5 separate regions of the Homo sapiens genome follow, and all the other regions are linked to region 3. The links come from fine-mapping of genetic effects on gene expression. A gene starts in region 3. Each other region holds a variant in brackets. All regions are shown on one strand. Distances are from middle to middle.

Region 1 (5,107 bases), 31 kb after region 3:
CCACCGAAATATCATCTTGAATTGTAGTTCCCATAATCCCCACCTGTTGTGGGAGGGACTTGATGGGAGGTAATTGAATCATGGGGGTGGTTACCTCTATGCTGCTATTCTAGTGATAGTGAGTGAGTTCTCACGAGATCTGATGGCTTTATAAGGGGCTTTCCCCCTTTTGCTTGGCACTTCTCCTTGCTGCCACCATGTAAAAAAGGACATGTTTGCTTCCCCTTCTGTCATGATCGTAAGTTTCCCGAGGCCTCCCCAGCCACATGGAACTGTAAGTCCATTAAACCTTTTTCCTTTATAAGTTACCCAGTCTCGGGTATGTCTTTATTAGCAGCATAAGAATGGACTAATACAGTGATTTGGTACTGGGAGTGGGTTGCTGCTGTAAAGATATCCAAAAATGTGGAAGCGGCTTTGGAACTGTGTAACAGACAGAGGTTGGAACAGTTTGGAGGGCTCTGAAGAAGAAAGGAAAATGTGAGAAAGTTTGGAACTTCCTAGAGACTTGTTGAATGGTTTTGACCAAAATGCTGATATTGATGTGGACAACGAAGTCCAGATTGAGGTGGTCTCAGATGGAGATGAAGAACTTGTTGGGAACTGGAGCAAAGCTCATCATGCTTTGGTAAAGAGACTGGTGGCATTTTGCCCCTGTCTTAGAGATTTGAACTAGAGAGAGATGAAACTTTGAACTTGAGAGAGATGATTAGGATATCTGTAAGAAGAAATTTCTAAGCGGTAAAGTGTTCAAGATGTGACCTGAATGCTGTTAAAAGCATTCAGTTTTATGTATTCACAAAGATATGGTTTGGAATTGGAACTTACGTTTAAAAAAGAAGCAGAGCATAAAAGTTTGGAGAATTTGCAGCCTGACTGTGTGACAGAAAAGAAAAAACCATTTTCTGGAGAGAAATTCAAGCTGGCTGCATACATTTGCATAAGTAATGAGGAACCAAATGTTAATCAGCAAGACAATGGGGAAAATGTCTCCAGGGCATGTCAGAGACCTTCACAGCAGCCCCCCCACCCATCACAGGTCTGGAGGCCTAGGAAGGGAAAATGGTTTCCTGGGCTGGGTCCAGGGCCCCCCTGCTGTGTGCAGCCTCTAGGACTTGTTGGTGCCCTCCATCCCAGCTACTCCAGCCATGGCTTAAAGAGACCAAGGTACAGCTCAAGTTGTTACTTCAGAGGTTGTAAGCCCCAAGCCTTGGCAGCTTCCACATGGTTTTGAGCCTACCAGTGCACAGAAGTCAAGAATTGACGTTTGGGAACGTCCACCTAGATTTCAGAGGATGTGTGGAAATGCCTGATGTCTAGGCAGAAGTTTTCTGCAGGGGTGGGACTCTCATGGAGAACCTCTGCTAGGGCAGTGCAGAAGGGAACTGTGGGGTTGGAGACCCCACACCCAGTCCCCACTGGGGCACTGCCTAGTGGAGCTGTGAGAAGAGGGCTACTATCCTCCAGACCCCAGAATGGTAGATCCACCAACACTTGCACTGTGTGCCTGGAAAAGCTGTAGACACTCAATGCCAGCCTGTGAAAGCAGTTGGGAGGGGGTGCTGTATCCTACAAAGCCACAGGGGTGGAGTTGCGCAAGGCTGTGGGAGCCAACCTTTTGCATCAGCATGACCTAGATATGAGACATGGAGATCTCAAAGGAGATCATTTTGGAGCTTTAAGATTTGACTGCCCTACTGGATTTTGGACTTGCCTGGGGCCTGTTGCCCCTTCATTTCTGCCAACTTTTCCCATTTAGAATGGGTGTATTTACCCAATGCCTGTACCCTCATTGTATCCAGGAAGTAATTAACTTCCTTTTGATTTTACAGGCTCATAAGTATAAGGGACTTGGTTTGTCTCAGATGAGTCTTTGAACTGTGGGCTTCTGAGTTAATGCTGAAATGAGTTAAGAATTTGTGGGACTGTTGGGAGGGCATAACTGGTTTTGAAATGTGAGGACATGAGATTTTGGAGGGGCCAGGGCAGAATGATATGGTTTGGCTGTGTCCCCACCCTAATCTCATCTTGAATTGTAGTTCTCATAATCCCTGTGTGCTGTGGGAGGGACTTGGTGGGAGGTAATTGAATCATGGGGGTGATTACCCCCATGCCGCTGTTCTAGTGACAGTGAGTCAGTTCTTACAAGATCTGATGGTTTTATAAGGGGCTTTTTCCCCTTTTGCTTAGCACTTCTCCTTGCTGCTACCATGTGAAGAAGGATGTGTTTGCTTCCCCTTCTGTCATGATTGTAAGTTTCCTGAGGCCTCCCCAGCCATGCTGAACTTTGAGTCAATTAAACCTCTTTCCTTTATAAATTACCCAGTCTTAGGTATGTCTTCATTAGCAGCATTGGAATGGACTACTGCAGTGTTCTTCCTATTCTCTACTCACCACAGCGCAGAACACTTCTGTACCCCAGATGTGCAGGGGTTTTCCCCACACATACCAAGCAAGCAATCAGTTCTACAGCAAACACCAGCTGGGTATCCTCTAATTCAATTCAATTCTGACATTGCCTAACTGAAGATAGCATCAGATCTCACAGGCTGA[G/A]GGCCCAGTCCCACAAGACTGTCCCTAATTCAGATGCCAATCGCAAGTAATAGGTTGTCACCTATATTTCTGATTGACTGACTGTAAATTGGATTTCTCACTACTCCTTTTTTTGGGTTTGACTAATTCACTAGAATGTTACAGAACTCAGAGAAAAACTTTACTTGTATTTACCAGTTTATTATAAAGGATATTGCAAAGGATATGGATGAACAGCCAGATAGAAGAAATGCATAGGGCAAAGTATGGGAGAAGGGGCATGGAGCTTCCATGTGTTCAGCTAACAAGAAGCTCTTCAAACCCAATCCCTTTGGGATTTTATGGCAGCTTCGTTACATAGGCGTGACTGATTAAACCAATGGACACAGTGATTAGCTTAACCTTTGTGCTGGCAGGGACCTCTCTTCTCCCCAGAGACTGGGGCTTTGGACTGAAAAGTTTAATCATGCTTTAGTCTTTATTGTGACCAGCCCCCATTCTGAAGCTACCTAGTGGCTGCCAGCCACCAGTTATCACCTTAGCATACAAAAGACACTCTTATCACTCCAGAGATTCCAAGGGTTTTAGGAGCTATGTACCAGGAAAAGAGAACAAAGATATTTCACAATATCACAGAGAGACATTTCATTTGGTGGAAAATTATCCTACTCTTTAGATGAGCATAAGCACTATTGAAAGAATGACTGTTGCTTGCTTGACTACAGACTTTGGGATGGTTTTACTCTGGGCTTTGAAATGCAATAAGAGGTATAGGGCCATAGTTCATTGTAGACAAATTCTGCTGTGGCCTGAATTGTCTTCTTTCACCAGTGTGAGTCACAGCATTTTATCGTCAGAAGGAGTCTATGTGAGAGATCATCCTTTTTAGTTCCCTCACTTTGCAGATGAGGAGATAGAAGCTTCAGAAGGTTAAGTGACTTGCCCAGCATCACATAGCAAGAGAGAGAGACTGAGCTGGGAGCAAAGTTGACCTTGCCTAATCCCTGGACAGTGTTCTTTCTCTAGTACACACCAGTTTTCTAAAATCATGGCCCCTCTCTTCAGTGAGATGTACCTAACAAGTCTTCTCACACAGTATGTCCTTAGGAAGTATTTACTGATTGATCTTTGTTGATTAAAAATTTATAAAATGACTGTTTTTCTTCTTCTGAAACTGAAGATTGTTTTACCTAAATATTTTCAGTTTTCCATGATAGTGTGACCTTTTTTAAGTCCTACTTCTGCTAGGGAAAAAAAAAAACACTTGATGAGTTTTATCTGTTCCATATGTTTATAGCTTTTGAAATGAACATTTGAAATTCCATTATGTCAGTTTGTAGATAGTAACTTATATCTATAATATATCCATATATACACATATCTATACACAACATAGTAATTAAGAGCACATATGGAGGTGAAATTATTCTGCTTCTCTGAACCCAGTTCCTCTTTTGTGAAATAGGAATGATAATGACACTTTCCTTACAGTGTTGGACTGAGGATTTGGGGAGATAGCCCGTGTAAGTGTTCCAGACTGGTGGCTCTTCATAGAAATAATAGCAATAGCAATAACTTCACATGTAATCCTGCTGTCCCCCTCCCAATAAACAACCACATCTGAACCAAAATACCCTTGTTAGAACACTCTTCTATGGCAAAGGGATGCCTTATTTTACTACCTGGGGATGAGGATCCTGGTTTTATCATCACTTAGCAGCCACCGAGCCTAATTTTCTATGTAATAATAGGTCAAGAGGTTTTCACGATTTCATAAATTGGTTGCAAATGACTGAGAACTAAATGTATAGTAGTTTTTATGTATATAGATGTATATGTTATATAATATATATAGTATAGTACACTACAGAATATATAGATTCTATATTTTGTTTTTATTTTATTCATGTATTTGTTTCTTGAGACAAGGTCTGGCTCTATCACCCAGGCTTGAGTGCAGTGGGGCAATCTCCTCTCACCGCAACCTCTGCCTCCCAGTCTCAAGCCATTCTCCCACCTCAGCCTCTCAAGTAGCTGGGACTACTTGGCATGCACCACTACACCTAGCTAATTTTTGTATTTTCTGTAGAGATAGGGTTTTGCCACGTGGCCCAGGCTGGTCTCAAACTTGTGAGCTTAAGTGATCCGCCTGACTCAGCCTCCCAAAGTGCTGGGATTACAAGTGTGAGCCACTGCACGCCCAGCCTTATTTTAAATAGATAGTGCATGCATGTGTCTATGCTACTCCTCTTCACTAAGCTTAGACATTGTTAGGCACTTGCTCAAGGATAAGTCTTCAAGACTTCAGTGGTGCATGTCTACAGGTCTTGCTGCCTTCTGTTGAGTTGCTCAAGATGCCAGAATGGCTGAAAAGATGCTAGAACTGGTTCTGCTTTCTAACTTGGGAGCTCTGCTTCTCTTTGGTCACTGCATTCACTCTGCAATTAGTACCGGGTACTGTTGTGATGGAAAAGACGGTTTAAATTCTCTTTGGTAGAAAGTCACTTTCAGCTTCGAGTCCAAACTCCAAAACCACTCCTGGGTAACACTATCAAATAGTCCTGGGCTCTACCCC
Region 2 (5,107 bases), 92 kb after region 3:
GCCCAGAGAAGACATTTTAGAATAACAAGCCAATTAAGAAGTATCAAATGGTATAGTCATGATTTTAATTTAGGTTTATATACTCTAACCTAAATTATTATTTTAAAGCAAACTGCAGTGGGGGTGGGGTGAAAAATGAAGAGAAACCTACTATAAGGGTACTGTAATTTTGGGGAGCAAGCTAACACATTTGACTTGCGGCTGAGCTCTTAACTAAGCAATACCTCAGTATGCTCCTTTGGGAAAAATTAAAGGTTCAGTAGTCAAATACTTTTGGAAATGCTGGGCCATTATGCACAGAGAAGGTCCGCAGTAAGGAACATTTTAAATTTGAACAGAGAACATCCAAATCTAATTCATCTTAGAATCCATTTGCTATGGAATGTACTAGGCAGAACTGGAATGTATTTCAGGAAATTATTGTCTAGAGAAGTGGTTCTTAAATTAATTGATTCCTTAATCGAATCACTCATTGATTCAGCAAATATTTTGAAGTGTTTATTTCCAGCCACTGTTCTAGGCACTGAGAATACAGCAGTAATAAATGTCAGTACTTAAGCTTATTCATGATGCAGCCATTCCTTTTATAAAATAACGGCATTAGTAAATGATAGAGGCCTCCCTCCCGCAACTTTAAAATGCCTTACTAAAATAAAAATTTGACTATCCCATGTTATTTCCCAACATTTCATTGGAAATTATACTAGATCATGAAACCCAGAAAGTCTACAACCTTTGATCTGGAGAATGCACTCATATGTGTACCCAATTATACACAGATGTTAAACATCTGAATCCTGCCTTCCACGGTTTTGAATTAATTTTATTAATGCTCCTAGAAGTATTTCATGGCTGTCTTCAAAAGCTAGAATGTTAAATGGGAAGAGTCAATGTCTGGCATAGGACAAATCATATGTCTAAAATAGGAGTAAACAACTAAGAGATCACATTTCTATTAATGTGGTAATCTTGTTTTTGTAGGGTTTACGTTTGCAAATATTTCTTGACCAGGAAAATTATGTTTAAGAGCATATTAATAGTGGAGAAATTTTATTTTCTTCTGTGAAATAAGTGCTTCTTAAAGTAGAAACTCATAGCATAATGTCTCTTTTCAGCCTACCATTTCTATGTCCATATGTTAGAGGATTTTTTTTTTTTTTGGTATTGTGCAGTGTTCATCGATTTTGTTTTATAACAGGTTCAGAAGAAGAACCCAGTCCTGTTTTGAAAACTTTGGAAAGGAGTGCCGCTAGGAAAATGCCTTCCAAAAGTCTAGAAGACATTTCATCAGATTCATCAAGTGAGAATAAAGTTCGCCTCACTGTTCATGCCCCATCTAAGCTTAAAAATGCCTATGTGCTCTCCTGTAGCCTCACTGCGTGCTGTTGTGCACTGCACCCTCTAATGGGGGCAGTTAACAGATGAAAATAACCTCTCCAAAGTGCGCTGAAGAGGCTCAACCTAAAGTGGCTGGAACTTTGCTTATAAAATAATATATTACATTTGGTTACTAAAACACTAGGTTTCCTTTAATTGAAGAATCCCAGTTTGAGTGTTTCTCAAGTACAGTGAGTTTCAAAGGATAGTGGTAGCTAGTAGTATTAGTGAAAATAGTCATAACTAGCATTTATTGAATATTATTTGCCAAAACGTGCCTAACAATTTTACATGTATTATCTCATTTAACCAGCACAAGCAACCCTATGAGAGGTGAATTATTGTTATCCAAATTTAAAGATGAGGAAAATGAAGCTCAGAAATGTGAAATGACCTTTTTAGTATTACACGGAAGATCTGGGACTCAAAATTAACAGGCTATTATCAAGAACATTTATGAAGGGACCACATTATATATGACAGCGTTGGATGTCCAGTGAATTTTGCATGATACGGAGTTGAATTAGTCCCTGGCTTCAAGGACTTTCCTTTCTCTTTTATCCCTTCTATTCTGTTCACACTTTTCTTCTAGATACTGGAACTATAAGCCCAAAACTACTTAACATGAAAGACTTTAGGTACACGATTCCCCACTGGCAGCTGCTTTAATGGTGAAGGATTTCTTGAGTACTAGCAGAAAACATAATATATAAAGAGAGTTGTGTGCTAGACAAATGGACTAAGAAACCATGATTTCTTGGGGTTTTGTTCTTGCTATTTTCAAGCTAAAATGCACCCCTGGGATTGCAGATGGTCATAAGAAAAATTATCAAGTGAAAAGTTAACCACTGCCAAACTCATATGATTGAAAATTGGCCATTGTTATGTTTAGAATATTTTTTGTGCATTTGCAATTAAGAATAAAAAGTCAGAATTTAAAAATGAAAAAAAGAAAAGAAAAAGCCACTTCACCAAACATTTCCTAAAATTCACAGATTCCCAGGGGTTTGAAGACAGTATTCCCAATTTGGAATGTAGTCCTGACTATCCCAAGGATCTTGGAATCTCAGGGTTAGAAGGGATCTTAAAAATCACCCATTTTAACCTCCCCTCAATGCAGGAATTCTCTCTAAAGCCTCCTCAACAGGCGGCCAACCCCCATATCCGCCTGAATGCTTCCAGAGAAGGCGAGTCGAATCCTTTGTTGGACAGCCCTGATTGTTTTTCCTGATGTTGGTGATGGGCCTTGAGAAAAAGAAAAAAAGAAAAAAAAAATCTCAGAACAATTGGCCCATTTAGCAAACCTCTTGCCTGTGAAACATGGGGCTATTTCCATGGTGCAGCTTTAAAGTACTCAGGAATGTATAGGGTTAAAAAAAAATCACCATCAGCTGACGGGTATTCCTGCACGCTCCCTTCCAAATAC[T/C]GATACCCACTCTCACACTAGCCTGCCAAGATTCCACTTAGCAGCTGGTCCCCAGTTACATCTCTTCAGTTGACTTCCCAAGCAAGCCTCCCAGAGGCATATGTGAATGATGATGCACACACACAAATATTTGTTAATGACCATGGGTTTGGGAAGGTGTTAGTCATGGCTAGCATCATACCCTTTACAGAAGAATAGAGAGGCTGTTGCAGCCCCGTGCTTTCTCCTGCTGCTGGCCGATTGCTTGCTCTGAACTAACCCTCTAACCCTTGGGAGTCTGTGTGCAGCAGTGATGTGAGCTGCATCCGGGCTGAAATGGGAGCTCCCGCTATGGCACTGGCTCAAGGAGCTAATCTAAAGAGAAAGTATTTTGGGGAAGACATCTTGGTTGCACCCCTCATTGCATCTTGACTAATTGCTTCCAACTCCGGGGGCTTCCAGGGACAATCTCATTGTTCTTTTCTCTCCAAGGGTCAGCCATGTTAACCATTTGTTAATTTCTTCTGAACAGATCAAGCAAAAGTAGATAATCAGCCAGAAGAATTAGTGCGTAGTGCTGAAGATGGTAAATATCTTTATGTATTTGCGTGTCTGTCTTTGTATTAACTTCTGGGGTGATTTGGGCAGTCTCCGGGACGCAGCTGTTGGGTAAACAGAAGAACGTCATTTGCCACTATGTGGTGAATAGTGCCTAAGTTACTATAAAACAGTTCTGATTTGGTACATTTAATATAGTTTGTATTCTTAAGGCTTCTTCTGGTGATACTGTCATGAGGATCTCATCAGAGACCCTTGTGAAGCAAGGGTTTCTATAAATAGAAAATTGTATTTCTTTGGATGTGAGCTGATTTTTGCTACTCTGACTTGCAGAACTCTTTGTAAAGGCAGGAAGAGTGGAGTGAATTCCTGGGTTAAGTTATTCTTCTGTTTGATTCTCAAGTCTCAGCATTTAGATCTCTCTGGGCACAACTGGTAAAATCTTAAATTCAAAGGAAAGAGTCCCAGAACAAGGGTGGGAAATCGTGCCTCTGCTTATATAAATAACTAAATATAGACAGAGGGTGAAGTTGATTCTGAATATAATGGAGCCAGAAGATCTTGAAGCTTGTCAGTGGATCAGGTATTACTTGGCTCTGTTATAAGATGAATAGTATAGTGGTGCCTTGGTTGAGGGAGAGACAGAAATGAGTCTGATTTTTATATTGCAGAATTTATGCAAATGTATAATTTGTATTTGCATGCTGGATTTTATTTACTTGTTGTTAAATTTGCCTTCACTATAATCATAAAAATGTGTACTCACTGAGCTTTCCCATATAAATGCAGCAACAGAGCTCCTTAAAGGTCATTCTTTACTTTTATGTAATCGTTCTGTCTTTCTTATTTTATGTTTACAACAACCTCACTGAAGTTGATGGGGCAGGGATTTTTATCTTCATTTTGCTGATAAGAAAAACTCAGAGAAATTAGGTGACTTTTCTAAGATCCTATAGTTAGTCAGTCACTGGGAGGGCAGGAAATAGAATCTCAGCTTCATTACTCCTAGTCCAGTGCTCCTTCCCATTTTCCATACTGTGGTCTAGTGAATTACAGGAAGGATGCTCCGTATCTCTTTTGTTTGATCCCAGATTTTTAGTTGAACAGGAGACCTTAAAGAGGCTAATGAAGAAGAGTCACAGTGAGGAATGGATGAAAGCAAGATGAAAACCTGTCAGATGTATTCTGCTGTCTCAGTTGTGAAACTGACATTTGAGCTTTACTTTCATGTCTCTTTAATCCTTCTGTTAAAATGGTATTTATTCTCAATGTTGCCCTCCTGAGTAGATGAGAAACCAGATCAGAAGCCAGTTACAAATGAATGCGTACCAAGAAGTGAGTAGCAGGATCTTTCTCACAAATGACTAAACATTCCACTTTACATATTAAATATACTGAAATAACTAACCCCATTAATAACACAGTATTTATTATTGGCACTAAACTCCTGCAGCTTGCAAAGCTATTTCATTACGATAAGGGTTTTATTGAAAACATTTTACTATTGTCTGTGTTGAAAGAATGATTTGTGGTTCCACTGAGGGAGAGTTGTATATTAAATATATATATATATGTTATTGCTGATATTATTGTGCTTTTGTCAGTCTCTATGCTGTTTGAATCTCTGCTTAAAAGCAAGTTGGCACCTTCTGATTTCATTTGGTTTTTATGTTGCAGTATGATTTTGAGTATTGGATCTCTTGTGGCCTCTGTACGAAACTGTAGATGTGAATTCATTTATAACTTATTTGGACCTATGAAAGAACT
Region 3 (5,107 bases):
AACTGGGGTGCAGAGAGGCAGGCAGAGGCATGGAGATTATTCTTTCCAAAAACTATAATAACTCTCTTCCAACCATTATCACACCATTAGCTAACAGGAATTGAGATCTTACCTTGGGCCAGGCAATATGCTATATGTGTTATGTGTTATCTCCTTGGCATGGGGCAGGTAATATGACTACTTCTATTTTATAGAAGAACAATCGCTAACAGAAGTTAAGTGACTTAGGCTGGGTGCAGTGGCTCACGCCCGTAATCCCAACACTTAGAGATGCTGAGGCGGGCAGATCGCTTCAGCTCAAGAGGTCAACATTGCGAAACCACGTCTCTACTAAGAATACAATAATTAACTGGGCGTGGTGGTGTGTGCTTGTAGTCCCAGCTACCTGGAAGGCTGAGGTGGGAGGATGGCTTGAGCCTGGGAGGTTGAGGCTGCAGTGCGCTGTGTTTGTGCCACTGCCTGGGCAACAAAGTGAGACCCTGCCAAAAAAGGAAGGAAGGAAGGAAGGAAGGAAGGAAAGGAGGGAGGGAGGGAGGGAGGGAGGAGACTTGTCTAAAGTCACCCAGAGAAAGAAGGAAATTAAGTGACTTGTCCAAAGTCAACCAGCGAGTTCTGTGGTAGAGCCAGGAGATACACCAAAGTCTGTGCATTTAACCTTACACCATGCTATCCCTACCCTCTTGCCTTCCCCTTCAATGTCAACCTAGAATTCTCTAAAGTTTAAGTGTCACTTATATGTAAACCATTTTGAAGGGTTCCTATGGGATAAGTGGAACAGGCCATTGCTGACTTGATATGATCGTGTTAACCAAGGCTTTTTCAGTGCACTGTATGTGCAAGGCATCATGCTAAACATGTGCATCTTCTTTTAATCTTCACAGTAGGCCTGAGAGAGCAGTGCAATTATTTTCTCTCTAACAAATGAGCAAACTGAAGCACAGGGAGGTTGAGTAATTGGTCTAAGGTCTTATTAGAAATTGACATTTCTAACAGCATTTGGATCTTGGCCAAGAGCTCTAAGATTTAGTCTCTGAGCCATACAAGATTTAGATGAATTGGGAGCCATAACAAGACCCTGCCTTAAAATTTCTCCCCCACTTGCCTGCCCCACAACCTGAAGCAAGGATCCTGTGACCCTCTCTAGCATTTAGGCATTGCTATTTGTTTCCAGGGGACGAGTGATACTGGGAACAGCATGTATTTAGTTCCTTCAAAGTCCTATGCCAGATGATACAAGGCACCCAGAGGTGAGCAAGACCCAGTGCCTGCCCTCCAGAGCTAGAGAGGGGCAGGAAGGGGATAACCAAGGCAGGTGCAATCAACAATAAAAGTGAAGTACCAAAAGCATCTGAGGTCACGCTACTCCCCTGCCTAAAATCATTCGCCAACAGCCATCACCAACAGGACACAGCCTGCTTCCCTCAGCAAGGCAGGTACAGCCACTCCTCCAACATCTGCCCACCTACCTCCTTAGCTTCATCTCTGCCTCATTGTCCCAAATCCTGTGCAATAGCCGTGACATATGACAGGCATCTCCATGTCTCTGCCTGCCTCTCTGTGCCCAGTCTTCTGTCACCCCTTCAATCTGACCTAATTTGTAGCCCTCCTTCAAGACCTACCTTGGTCACATTTGTATTTTTTATTGTCCCCCTCCTTCAGCGTAGTGACTCTACAACACTTTGTCAACCTATTATAACACTTACCCTAAAATGAAATTATTTACAAATTTGTTTCTTCAAAGGCAAGACCAGTGGCTTATTCCTCTTTTGCATGTGGCATGCTCACCCAGCACAGGGACACACCAGGCTCTCAAAGGCTGAAGGAAGCCAGAATACACATCTCTGCACAGTGCCAGGACTCTTGGGCCAGGCTAGCAGCCTGCACTGGGCACTAACTGAAGCCCTTGGGGATAAGTATTTGTAAGTTTGGGAGAAGGAAGACCTTTGGAAGAACCAAAGGCAGACCTGGGCCACCCTCAGTTAAATGGACAACACTAGTCCAGGAAATGATAAGGAAAAAGGCTTTAAGGTTCATCTCCTTCAGAGGTTTGCCTGGGCTGGCCCCATCATGGGTAACTTGTAAAAAATAGGTCGTGATACAATTTTTAAATTATTTTATTTATTTTTTTGAGACAGAGTCTTGCTCTGTCACCCAGGATGGGGTGCAGTGGTGCGATCTTGGCTCACGGCAGCCTCCACCTCTCGGGTTAAAGCGATTCTCCTGCCTCAGCTTCCTAAGTAGTTGGGACTACGGGCGCTCGCCACCACACCCAGCTAATTTTTCTTTTTTCTTTTCTAATTAGAACAGAGTTTTGCTATGTTGGCCGGGCTGGTCCCGAACTCCTGACCTCGGGTTATCCACCTGCCTCGGCCTCCCATAATGCTGGGATTACAGGTGTGAGCCACCGCGCCCGACCACAATATTGTATTTACTGTATTGCATTGTCTGCCTCCCTGCCACACAGCGTCTTCCAGGAGCTTACCAGTCCTCTGTGCATACCCCAGTAAGTAGCTCAGGCAGTGCATGACGCCCTCACCTTTCTCTAGGTATTATTGTATTTTAAAGCATCACTTCATTTAGTCCTCTCAACAACTTTTTTCCCCCCTTCTTCTATTTCACATGTGAGGAAATTGACGTCCCGAGGGTTAAAGCAAGTTACCCCATGACCGGGCTCCATACCCTCCGCGCCCCTTTCCCTGCGCGGTGGCTGTCCCTTCTCGGAGTGCAGAGGCTCCTAGTGCTCCACACTCTCGGGCTCCAAGGCCCCCTAACGCGCCGTGATAAAAATAATAATAACAATAACAACAGTGCTGCTTTATTTGCACAGAAAACAGGTTGTTTCGGGGCAAGGTACACTTGAGAAGGAGGCTAGGAACCGGAGAGAAGCAGCAGGCGGGGGCGGAGGGCGAAGGGAGGGAAGGGGAGAGGGCAGGGGCTGGCAGGCGCTGTGTGCCGGGCGAGGAGGCCGGGGCGGGCCGGGGCGGGGAGCGGGCGAAGCGCCATTGGCCCGAGCACCCGGGACCGGCCCCACCGCACCGCCCGCCGGGGGCGGGGGTAGCGGGGAGGGACTCGCGCACGCCGCTCTGCGTTGACAGTGCCGGGCGACACCCGGGCCGTGCCGCCAGCGTCCGTCGGGAGAGTGAAGGCTCGCAACGCCTTGCCCGGGGGAAGGTAACGCGCCGCGCCCGGGGCTGCGCGGTTTGCACCGCCAGGCCGAGGGCTGGGGGCCAGAAGACAAGAGAGACGGCGAGGCGCGCTCCCTGCCCGGCAGCGACTCGGAGGTGCGCACTCGGGTTCCAGTCTCTACTTGGCCCACTCGCTGTGTTACCTCGGGCAACTTTGTTTCCCTCTCTTGGTCTCTGCTTCCTCCTCTGTTAAGTGAGGGAGGTGGTGTAGAATGTTGTTCCTTAGTCTAACCAGTTCTAAAATGGGAACTGCGTTTTGGCACGGGGAAAGCTCCTTTCCTCAGTTTCCCACCTACTCCAGAGCCACCTCCGCTGCCCAGGCGGCCAGGAAGCTGGGATGCCCGGGTAGGCGAGGGTTCTGCTGAGCTATCGCGTTTTCTAGGGCTTTCAGGGACTGACCTGGGCTTGGGGCTGGGTGCTGGGGAGACCTGGCTGCAGAGTAACTGCCCCCAGATTGCTCAGGTGCAGAAAGGTAGGAGCGTCAGCACCTGTTTACAGGTGGGGTGTTGGGAAGGGCCGGCCAGGGGATGATGATTTCTCCTTTGAAAATAAGACGTGTTTTGGAATTCTCTTCCATACCCACACCTCGTCCCACGGCGAGCTATAAACTACACGAGTGGGCTTTATCATCCTTTGAAGTGGAAAAGCGACTGTTTTTAGCGTCTAAGACACAGGGCTCCACCAGCATATAGGAAGTGGGTCTCTCTTTCTCTGCACCCATCCTGCCGCGTCTTCCCTTTCTTTCCTCCTCTCTTTATAAATCCCCTTTGACCTTGAGGGGCTCCACTTCCTGCCTTAATGAAAAGTTCTTCTTTTCATTTAGTGCTGGTTTGTGACCAGCAGCCTCCAGGGCTTTGGGCGCAGGGTTGAGATAGAAGCCTAGATAAGAACAGGCTATGAATCACCCTGTCAGCCCCCTGAGCCACACAGCCCGGCAGGGATGTGCAGAGGAAGCCCGGTGGGGCTTCAGACAGATAGACCCTGGAAGGTGGGGTGGATGCAAACTGCCATCCAGCTTCCCGTCCCCTTGTTGGCAGCCATTCCCCACCAGGATGGTGACCCCTGCTGTCTGCTGGATGGAGCAGCCAGATAGAGTAGGATGATTGAAAGGAGCTGAGGACTTGGCTGGATTTCTATGGAAGGTCTCCAGCATTTCCCTTCCCTCACTTTCCTCCACCCCTGAAGTTCTGCCCCTTCTCACCCTTAGTGTGGTATCCAGGTGAAATCAGATTGCAGAACCCATCAAGAGCAGCTAGGAAGGAGAAGAGGTGTGGGGACGGCAGCAGGGCAATGTTGACTGCTGTTTAGTGGGCACTTACTATGGGCCAGACACTTCTTTGTATGTAATATATCCTTAATTCTCACAAAGCCACATGAGGGGTGATGTACTATACCCTATTTTATAGGTGAGAAACAGGCTCAGAAAGATTGCTTCCTTTAGTCACTTAGCTAGGAAGTAGCATAGCTGGAATTCAAATCCAATCTCTGATTCTAAAACCTGTGTTCTTTACACTGTCTTTGTGCTCCTTAAGTAAGAGCAAGCTGGAATAAGGAGAGCAAAAATGTCTAACATTGTGTTCTCACCAGGTGTCAGGCACTATGCAAAACATCTTAGAGCTATTATGTCATTTATGGTGCAGGAGTTTCCGTTATTCTGGAGGTAATCTGTGACTGCCTTAGCCTCTCAGCAGCAGTACTGTTCTAGAAGGCCTACCCTAATCCTGCCCAGCTGCTAGTGCGTGGGTGGGGCAGGGCCCTGTTTGCTTTATCCTAGAGGTGGTTTGGGGTCTAATGAAAGATTGATTGTCCACATCTGACCCGTTAGCCCTAACCGTTGGCTGGTGAATGATTCCACTGTCCCCTAAGAGGCCTTTTTCAGGTTTTGCTCAATAAACATTTGTGGAATGAATGAATTAGCACCT
Region 4 (5,107 bases), 360 kb after region 3:
TACTTGATGGAGTAGCAACAATATTTTAAAATTCCTAAGTGAGCTCACAAATAAGTAAAGGAAGTCTGTGGGGGCCAAAAAAGAAGATGAGTTGGAAATAGAATTGTAGGTGGTTGCTGATATCATAGCTATCTAGAGGGCATTTGCTAATTATGGTAATCCTGTTTTAATGACCAGGCAGTGGAGGAGAAAAAGCCTAGTATATACACAGATGTGAAGATATCTCTGAGAACCCACATAAAGCCAGAAATTAACTCTATGATTAATATGAGGGTAGAGGTGAAAAAAAATGTCTCCCTGTCAAATAACGAAGATAAGCAAGACAACTTGGCAAGAAGGTATGTGTTAGCCTGGGCTCTCATAGAAAACAATAGAAATATCTGCTCTGAAAATTGATAACCACAAAGGCTGCCCTGATATCGCTTTCAAGTTAAAATTTATGTCATTTTTTTTTAAAACGGAGTTTCACTCTTGTTGCCCAGGCTGGAGTGCAGTGGTGCGATCTTGGCTCACCATGCAACCTCTGCCTCCTGGGTTCAAGCGATTCTCCTTTCTCAGCCTCCCAAGTAGCTGGGATTACAGGCATGCACCATCATGCCCGGCTAATTTTGTATTTTTAATAGAGACAGGATTTCTCCATGTTGGTCAGGCTGGTCTCGAACTCCCGACCTCAGGTGATCCACCCACCTTGGCCTTGCAAAGTGCTGGGATTACAGGCGTGACCCACTGTGCCTAGTCAAAATTTACGTCATTTTTGTAGTCTGAGCAGTCTAGAGCTAAAAAAAAAAAAAAACTTTAGGTAGTTCCAATTCGAAAGCACTCAGGTGATTGGCAGAAGCAAATGCATATCATCTTTCACTGAATGTAGCTTCAACCCAGGCTTCATGGAGTTACCTAAAAACAGCTTTAATAAAACATAAATTGAGAATGAAAACTACAAAATACATGAGAAATAAATCACTATAAGTGAGACTTACCAGAAAATATCACTAAACACTTCATATAATGTTTAAAATGTTTAAATAAAGCATGTACTCTCTAATATAAGAAAGGAATAAGATATAATTAAAAAGAAGGGGCAGAATAGGAAATAAAAATTACAAAATAGACCTCCTAAAAATGAAAATTATAATAACTAAAAAGTAGATGGTTAAAAAGAAGATTATACAAAAGAAAATTATAAATTAATGAAATAAAGGATAGAGTTAAAGAAATTATCACAAAGAGGTGAAAAACATAAAAGAGTGGTTAAAAGACATGGACATTAGAATGACAAGAGCTGATATCACCCATTGGAGTTCCAGAAGAGACTAGAATTAATGTGGCAGAAGCAATTTTTAAGTCCTGGATGAAAAATTTCCAGAATTGATGGAAGACATAATTCTCTGTTTCAGGAAGCATAAAAATTCTAACCAAGGAAAATAAATAGAAAAAGGAAAGGAAAAAAATTAATAAGCCAAGTATCCAATTTAACATGTTAGAAAAAGGACAGAATAAATTCAATAAAATGGAAAAAAGGAAATAATAGAGAAGATACTGATTGAACAAACAAAACACAGAATAAAGAGGATCAATAATGACTGAGTTTCATTTGATAAGATTAACGTAAACAACTTCTGCCATGTTTGACTTAAAAGAGAGTGGAAGGAAGAGGAGGAGGGAGAGGGAGAGAGAAGCATAAATAAGCACAGTCAGAAATGAAGAATGGGAACTACTTTAAATATATTAGTGTTTGATAGGCTCAAAGGAAAGGAAGGAGCAAGGCTATGTGTAAATGCTTTAGATGTGGATGTGGCAATGGACTTGTTTCCTTGGAAGCAATAAAGATAAGATAGATGTTGAATATTGGGTCCCCAAACCCTTATCTGAAGGTATTTCCTGGATCCTAAATAGAGGCTACTTCTCTGTGTCAAAGTGACTTAGAATCTCCAGACAAGAGTGGGATATTTCATTTTTACTGAGAGAATTTCAGAAGCAAAGTCTCTGATTGTCTTTGATTTTATAGAACAAAGTTTTTCAGTAAGAAAGCAGTAGGCATTCAAAGAAAGGGGTTGTGATGATACTTTATAATGGCAGCATATCCTTGGGTGAAATAGTGTTTCCTTTTAACTTTCCAGCCAGCTTTATCTGGGCCTATTATTCCAGCCTGATGAATGTCAGGGCAGATTTTTGGTGTCTGAATTTATTTTTACTTTCTCACCCCAAATCTTATCTCAAGGTCTCTGCTCATTATTTGAATGCTCAAGGAGAATTGAGGCAATTCCAGAATACTGAATGTAGTGTTTTAAAAATGAATAGTTTCCAGGAAATGGTAAACTTAATGTTGTTTCTTAGCAATAGTCTAGTTTAGATTAGAAATTCATTGATATCCTTTTCTGATAGGGCTTTTTAGATTGCTAAAGCAGGAAAATTATTCCTCATGAAAACATTGTAAGGTACTTTCAAGTATAAAAATCGCTTTAATTTGGATTATTTCATTTGAGTCAAACTATGAGTTTCTTAATTTTCATATTAGCAATCGAGGC[T/C]AAGAAATGCTAAATAACTTGCCCAGAGTCAGCTAGCTACTGAGATTTAACTGTCTGTAAGGTCAACGATCTGTCCATTGCTCTAAGCTGCCTCCAAGTTCAGAGAATTCCTAGAATTATTAGACTTTTGGGAAAACATTTTCAAAGAGATTGGTTAAGATCAGTTTGGGAAACAATTGCCTTTTCTGTCTATCTCATCCCTCTCAAATTTATTGATGTACAAGTCTAATTTCAGTTAAAGTTCCAAAATAAAAATACTTATGGTTTCTTTGCTTTCTTGGGATTTGACCTTTTCATAATTTTTTTTTCAGAAATTTTAAGCTTCAAATTTTTACTTTAATGTTTAGGGTAATGACTGAGGGAACACAAATAAATCATGAAATATGTATTAGTTTTCTAGAGCTGCCATAATAAATATCACAAATTCAATTGTTTAAAGAGCAAAAATTTATTTTCTCACAATTCTTGAAGCTAATATTCCAAGATCAAGGTGGTTGGCAATGGTTGGCAAGGTTGGTTTCTTTGGGACCTCTCTCCTTGGCTTGCAGATGGCTATCTTCCCCTTGTATTGTCATATGGTCTTCCTTCTGTATCTGTGTCCTAATCTTCTCCTTTTCTTATAAAGTCACCAGTCATATTGGATTAGGTTCCACCCTAATTACCTCATTTAACTTGATTTCCTCTTTAAAGACCCCATCTCTAAATATAGTCACATTCTGAAGTACTGGGAGTTAGAATTTCAACATATTAGTTTGGGCAGGGGGCAGGGGAGACACAATTCAGTCCATAACAAATGTGTTTTTCATCATAGTATTCTTGGAGTCTGTCAATGTTTCTAGAATTTAGTATTTGTTAAATAAAGAAGTGAAAGCTAGATTATCAGTATGGGTGAAGTTTGAAGACTTAAAGTGAAAATTGTAAGATTAGTTATACAACTAGTCAATTAAATGGCAGATTAGAACTTCTGTACAGTTGGTCTTTAATTTATAATGGTTCTATTTATGATTTTTTGACTTTACAATGGAATATTTTCAACTTATGACCAATGCACACTGTGTTGCCTTTCTCTTTTTAAATAACGTAAAATTGCCGTGATTCATTAGACTAAAAGATTTTATTCAAATGGCAGAATGTATTTATTGTCTTTGATATACAAAGCTTTTTCTTAGAAGTTTTTCATTTTAAAACAAATTTACATTCTAAATTTTAAAATATTATATATCAATATATAAACACACACACACACACACACACACACACACACATATACTATATCCCTTCAAACTGGAGTTGTCACTGAGTAATATTTCTTTTAAGGTAGCTCCAGTTAGGACACAATGGAGATAGCATGGGCTTTAGAATAAGATGCATCTGTGGTTGTATGATTCACGCTACATAATTTTAGTTATTTAAGCCTTAATGAACCTATAAAATGTGAAAAATAGTATTTTATCTTAAATAGTTGTAGCAAGGATTAAATAAGATGTTTATAAAGTGCCTAGAACATTTACCTGATCGATATTTACTAAACAAATGGAAGCTATTATTTTAAGTGATTATTAACAAATTTATTTTCATAAGAATTACAAAGCAGTATGTCTTTGTTATCTTATTACAAGAATTGTTATTTGAAAAAGAATATAAACAACATTTTATGGCCTTCAAAGTAAAATCTAACTAATTTCTCTTAGAAATCTATAACAAAACCATTTCCTCCAATGGCAACAAATGGCACTGTTATTCTTGTGCTAATTGATAGGGCTTATTCTAGATTTGATCTTTCAACATGATTAGATTGTACATTTTGTAGAGGCATGTTAAATCTATCAGACTTAAAATCCCTAATGAAGTTAAAAGACCTTTAAATGTTCTCAAATACTTTGTCCTTAATGTGTCTCACTTTGAAACAACTCAAAACACCATACCAACATTTTATTTTTCAGGTAGATTAATTTAGGGTCTGATGGTTTGTAAGGTAAAATTTGCTCTTTTACTTAAAGAGGAAGGGATCTTTTAACAAACAAAGCCACAAGTTGTAAACAATGGGTTTTAGAGTCAGCAGACATATTTGTGGCTTTGGGCAAGTTGTTTAATATCTCTGTGCCTAAAATTTCTCATCTGTAGATTAGAGGCAGTGTACATAATATATAGAGCAATGTGTGAGTAATGGATGGAAAGCCTCCATGGTTTCCTCCATCAATGGTTTCATCAATCCCAAAATTTTTATAGAGTGCCCACTGTGTTAGGTTCTAAAAAAGGAAATTGTGTGTTTAAAAGAAAAAATAAAAATTAAAACTCTATACCACTTTTAGGAATGTGTCTCTTTTTAAATGAGGTGTGCCTGTTCTGATTAGTGCTTTCAATCTTTTTGTTTTTTTGAGACGGAGTTTCACTCTCGTTGCCCAGGCTGGACAGGAGTGGTGCAACCTCGGCTCACTGCAACCTCCACCTCCCAGGTTCAGGCGATTCTCCTGCCTCAGCCTCCTGAGTAGCTGGGATTACAGGCGCAGGCCATGATGCACAGCTAATTTTTTGCATTTTTCAGTAGAGACGGGGTTTCACCATGTTGACCAGGCTGGTCT
Region 5 (5,107 bases), 100 kb after region 3:
TGAACTAGGTATTAAAGAAAGTGGAAATGCAATCAGGCCTTGCTCATCTGTTCCCTTTGAGACTTATCATCAGTCACATTTGTTGAGTGCCAGTTACATGTAAAACACCATTCCAGATCAACAAGGCAGAGTCCTATCCTTCCAATAATTCACTAATGATCTGATATACTAGGTAGAATGCAGTAGGCGCTAAAATAGAGGGAAATGACTATCAGCATGTGGGGAGAGAGTGTGACAACAGAGACATTTAAAAGATATGAATTTTTTTAATCCTTGAGAAAGGATTCTTATCCACGTAAAGCATTAATTTTGCTTTCCTTTAACTCCTTTATTAATCTGCATTACAATTGGCATCCATTATATTGATGCATAATTGCATGGTCCTGGAATATGCTGGCATGAACTAACTACTCCATAAAGGTGTCCCTTAACCCCTGGTGCCACTGAACTGTTCCATAAGCTCTCTAACCCTAAAAGGAGCTCACTCTGAATCATAAATTTTTAAAGCTACTATTTAATAAACTTTAGATTCAAATATAACAAAATTTGTTACTGTCACTTTTCTTTCTTGTCCCAGGTAAATACTTCCTCGGACATATTTAAAATAAATACCTGTATTTTACTTCTTTTTAAAAAATGTGTTAAAATCTAATGTGGGTAGAATGTATAATTTAATATACTTAACTCTAGGAACAAAAAGATAAGCATAATAACACAGGAATATGTAAGGGGAAGTTTAAAAATTTTAAACATTAAAAAATATATATATATGGCCTTGAGTTGAAACAGATGAGACTAGCATTTCTTTTTTCCTAGTTTAATAGTGTGTCAAGTAAAAGATTTGATTTTTAGAGAAGTTAGGGGCTGTGCTAATAAGAGGAATTAAACATGATGTTTTGGTTTTAACAGTAAATCTTTTTATTATCTGGGTAAAGTTAATTTCTCATATATACCAATAGAGTTCCCCAGGCAAATAAATATATAATATTAAAAGACTGGCAAGAAAGCTCACAATAGTGCTGTCTTCTGCAGCACTTTGGGAAAGACTACTTTGTAGGTGAAAAGAAATCACTTCGTTATTTTGGTAGCTAAGCACTGCCTTCCTCCTTAGGTGAGGTCAAGGCAGACCACCCACTCCATCCTGAATCCCATACCCTGGCAATTAGCACTAGCATCCTTTGACCTTGCGTAAATGTCAGTGGAATACCAAAATCTCATCTTTGCCTAAACAGAGATTCTGATCTTGACTCATTCTGAATTTAAATATTGTGCATATTATATGCTGTTTTGTAGAGTGATGACAGAGAAACAGATACAGCATCAGAAAGCAGTTACCAGCTCAGCAGACACAAGAAGAGCCCGAGCTCTTTAACCAATCTTAGCAGCTCCTCTGGCATGACGTCCTTGTCTTCTGTATGTAAACAAAGGCTCCATATTAATATCTCTCCGCGTCTCTGAACCTTGCTCTGACATGCTCATGCTCATTGTAAAACAGCCTCCTCCTGTATTTCTCAGGGCACAAACAGTTTCTCTAATCCATAATTAGCTTCTGGCTAGCTACATCTATCTTTTTTTTTTTAGACTAACGGGGTTCATATCCATCATAAACAAATCTTTGTGGGGTTTTTTGTTGTTGTTGATGTAAGTACTTCACAAATAAACTTAAATTGCCAAGAAGATGAACCACTAAATTTTTCTGTGCAACAAATGGGGTAACTATGATAAAATCTGCTTGTATCAGATATGCTTTTATATATGATTTGCAGGCATAGAATTGAACCTCTCTTTTAGTAATCCTGAGCAATCAATATACTGGTTGACATGAAAGAATATGAGAGGTAATTCCTTGCCTTTTAGAAGGCATCTGAGCAGCATTTTAAAAGGAAATATCCTTAAGTGTAGTTACTCAGATTTGATTTAAGGGAATCTAACTAATTTGACTTTACATAGAACTTCTTGCATAAGGTGAAGTTGTATGTGCATGTAGTATGTATGTAAAAATATATGTAAATATATCCACATACACTTATCTGAGTATCAGATGTGCATACACATACATATATTCACCCAAGTATGCTGAAGAAATGATAAAACTGTGCTTAAATTCTTGCTAGCCTTGTGTTTCTGAAACCTTTTTTAAAAACCTATTTAAATTGAGTTTCTGCTGATAAAAATCTAACATCTGCCTTTGGGAAGGTTTTAAACTCCCTTCATCAATCATCCATTTTCTACCCTTCCTGACCTCTAAAAGCGCATGGCTCAGTAAGCATTTTTCTAGATTCAGTGGATGGGTAACATGGTAAAATTCCTTTTTAGTGCCTTGGAAATTCGATACAGCAGTGTGTCACTATGATTAGAGTGTCTGGGTTTTCTCACATCTTCTTTCTTTTGGATTTTAAATATTAAGCATGCC[A/T]GAAAATGGATGCCTTTGAATGCCACCTAGCATAAAATCACCCTGCTTTGAAATGAGCCAGCATCTAAATAACATTGCATTTCACTTTTCATCTATGTCTTATAGGGAAAATTATTTAAAAACATTAGTCGGCTGGGCGCGGTGGCTCATGCCTGTAATTCCAGCACTTTGGGAGGCCGAGGTGGGCAGATTACTTGAGGTCAGGAGTTTGAGACCAGCCTGGCTAACCTGGTGAAACCCCATCTCTACTAAAAATATAAAAATTAGCTGGGCATGGTGGCGTGCGCCTGTAATCCCAGCTGCTTGGGAAGCTGAGTCAGGAGAATCGCCTGAACCTGGGAGGTGGAGGTTGCAGTGAGCCGAGATCAAGCCACTGCACTCCATCCTGGGCAACAGAGTGAGACTCTGTCTCAAAAACAAAATGAAACAAAAAACTCTAGTCATGTATATCATGTCAGGTTGTCTTTATAGATATGTCTTTATGCTATATTGAATTAACTGCTTTTATAAGCAAGCTAAAGAAATAATGCCAGCAGGGATTATATCCATGATCCTTGTGCTAGGTTTAAGAATGAGATAGAGACAAACACTATGTATTTCTGATGCTTTCAGGTGAGTGGCAGTGTGATGAGTGTTTATAGTGGAGACTTTGGCAATCTGGAAGTTAAAGGAAATATTCAGTTTGCAATTGAATATGTGGAGTCACTGAAGGAGTTGCATGTTTTTGTGGCCCAGTGTAAGGACTTAGCAGCAGCGGATGTAAAAAAACAGCGTTCAGACCCGTAAGTACATTTTAGAGTCACCTACCTTCTCTTAGTTCTCCAACTGTCAATCTTACAGGAATTGGAAGGAAATAAAGTAATCAAGAGGAGGGAGGGTATGTGTTAAGAGGAATGTTTGAAAAGTTGGGGGGAAATGCTGTTTTATTCTATAAATTCATATGTCAAACATTAAATTATAAAAATCACAGAGAAAGGCCGGGCACGGTGGCTCACGCCTGTAATCCCAGCACTTTGGGAGGCCGAGGCGGGCGGATCACAAGGTCAGGAGATCGAGACCATCCTGGCTAACATGGTGAAACCCCATCTCTACTAAAAATACAAAAAATTAGCTGGGCGTGGTGGCGGGCGCCTGTAGTCCCAGCTACTCGGGAGGCTGAGGCAGGAGAATGGCGAGGAGGCGGAGCTTGCAGTGAGCTGAGATCGGGCCACTGCACTCCAGCCTGGGCGACAGAGTGAGACTCCATCTCAAAAAAAAAAAAAAAAAAAAAAAAAATCACAGAGAAGCACAAAATGTTTCAACTTGGAAAGAACCTTTGGGGTCATCTTGTTCAGTTCCTTCATTTTACAGATAAGAACGCAAGGACCAGAGAAGACAAGTAACCCATATATGTGAATTCAGATAGAAGCAAAATGAGGAATGAGGACCTGAACCCATCTCTTTCCACCACACTCTCAAACTTTTTACAAAATTAGGGATACATGGGACACACTTCATAAAGCTCAGTGGTATAAAAATAGTTAAGACTCTAGAATGAGAGAATTTTCATATTTAAATTATATCTTACAGAACTTTAGGGGAAATTACTAAAATTATTGTTTTAAATCACAGGTTTAATTGCACTTCAGTTTTTTTTCTTTTTTTGCAAACGCTGAATGGTATTCCCTACTTATCCCTATACAGAAGTCTGATTCTTAATTATTTTGCTGAGACAAGTGCAATCCTTTTTTCTTTTATTCTTATTATAAAAACAACTGAGCTCAACATCCTTTATTTTTTTAACATTGAAGATAACTTGACTAGGTATTTACTAAGATTAATTTATTTCAAAAGACGGTAACAAAAACTTAAAAATACTGCAAGCACCAAAGCGTTTTCTCAGAGGGGAACAAACTAGGGGAACAAACAGATTTAAGCTCTATGCTGAAAGTGTGTTTTCTTTTTTTCTTTTTTTTTTTTGAGGTGGAGTTTCACTGTTGTTGCCCAGGCTGGCACGATCTCAGCTCACAGCAACCTTCGCCTCCCGGGTTCAAGCGATTCTCCTGCCTCAGCCTCCTGACTAGCTGGAATTACAGGCATGCATCACCACACCCAGCTAACTTTGTAGCTCTGTGTGTGTGTGTGTGTGTGTGTGTGGTTTTTTTTTTTTTTTTTTTGAGACCAGCCTGGCTCATGGGGTTTTTCCATGTTGGTCAGGCTGGTCTTGAACTCCCGACCTCAGGTGATCTGCTCACCTTGGCCTCCCAGAGTGCTGGGATTACAGGTGTGAGCCACCGTGCCTGGCCTGGAAGTGTGTTTTCTGCCCCTTTCCACCCCTGCATATTAGTTAAGGCCAAAGGAAAAAAGGAATGCAGGAAATGCCCGTTAAAAATCTTCAAAACAATATAAAATGATCAATTCCACTAAAACCCTTTACACATTTAAGTATAAAGGTATTGGTAGGAAAATTTGTTATTCACTGCTTTTCTCAGTGTCATGAAATAATTATTTCTGCTGTCAGTTTTCAATGTATTTAAAAAACTAGAGGTGGAAACATAACTTTTATTTTCTTTGACTTTGTCTGTTCAATTCTCCTTTTCAGATATGTAAAGGCCTATTTGCTACCAGACAAAGGCAAAATGGGCAAGAAGAAAACACTCGTAGTGAAGAAAACCTTGAATCCTGTGTATAACGAAATACTGCGGGTATCTATGA

Alleles and levels. Alleles are on the strand shown, and positions count from the first base shown. SD is a standard deviation of normalised expression in the study named. Not every link is listed here.
As copies of T replace C in region 2, the expression in tibial nerve of the gene that starts at base 3,094 in region 3 goes down (small effect, 0.30 SD a copy in GTEx).

Evidence for each region. PIP is the estimated chance that this variant, and not a neighbour inherited with it, causes the effect.
Region 1: its variant is fine-mapped to the expression of SYTL2 in whole blood (INTERVAL, PIP 0.96).
Region 2: its variant is fine-mapped to the expression of SYTL2 in tibial nerve (GTEx, PIP above 0.99).
Region 4: its variant is fine-mapped to the expression of SYTL2 in whole blood (TOPMed, PIP 0.92).
Region 5: its variant is fine-mapped to the expression of SYTL2 in blood mononuclear cells (TOPMed, PIP above 0.99).

What each region holds. Positions count from the first base shown.
Region 1 is chr11:85,778,324-85,783,430 of GRCh38, reverse strand. All of the region lies in intron 1 of SYTL2 (synaptotagmin like 2), which reads left to right. Among named protein-coding and RNA genes, the nearest start is that of SYTL2, 30 kb to the left of the region's middle. The variant G/A (reference allele first, on the strand shown) is at 2,554.
Region 2 is chr11:85,717,051-85,722,157 of GRCh38, reverse strand. It overlaps SYTL2 (synaptotagmin like 2), which reads left to right. Exons shown (of 20, transcript NM_206927.4): 9 at 1,199-1,300; 10 at 3,315-3,368; 11 at 4,628-4,675. Among named protein-coding and RNA genes, the nearest start is that of CCDC89, 33 kb to the right of the region's middle. The variant T/C (reference allele first, on the strand shown) is at 2,804.
Region 3 is chr11:85,809,128-85,814,234 of GRCh38, reverse strand. It overlaps SYTL2 (synaptotagmin like 2), which reads left to right and starts at 3,094. Exons shown (of 20, transcript NM_206927.4): 1 at 3,094-3,281. RefSeq lists a silencer at 2,956-3,135.
Region 4 is chr11:85,445,477-85,450,583 of GRCh38, reverse strand. The region is part of intron 3 of DLG2 (discs large MAGUK scaffold protein 2); the gene reads left to right. Among named protein-coding and RNA genes, the nearest start is that of DLG2, 180 kb to the left of the region's middle. The variant T/C (reference allele first, on the strand shown) is at 2,526.
Region 5 is chr11:85,707,419-85,712,525 of GRCh38, reverse strand. It overlaps SYTL2 (synaptotagmin like 2), which reads left to right. Exons shown (of 20, transcript NM_206927.4): 13 at 1,294-1,413; 14 at 3,026-3,195; 15 at 4,995-5,097. Among named protein-coding and RNA genes, the nearest start is that of CCDC89, 24 kb to the right of the region's middle. The variant A/T (reference allele first, on the strand shown) is at 2,414.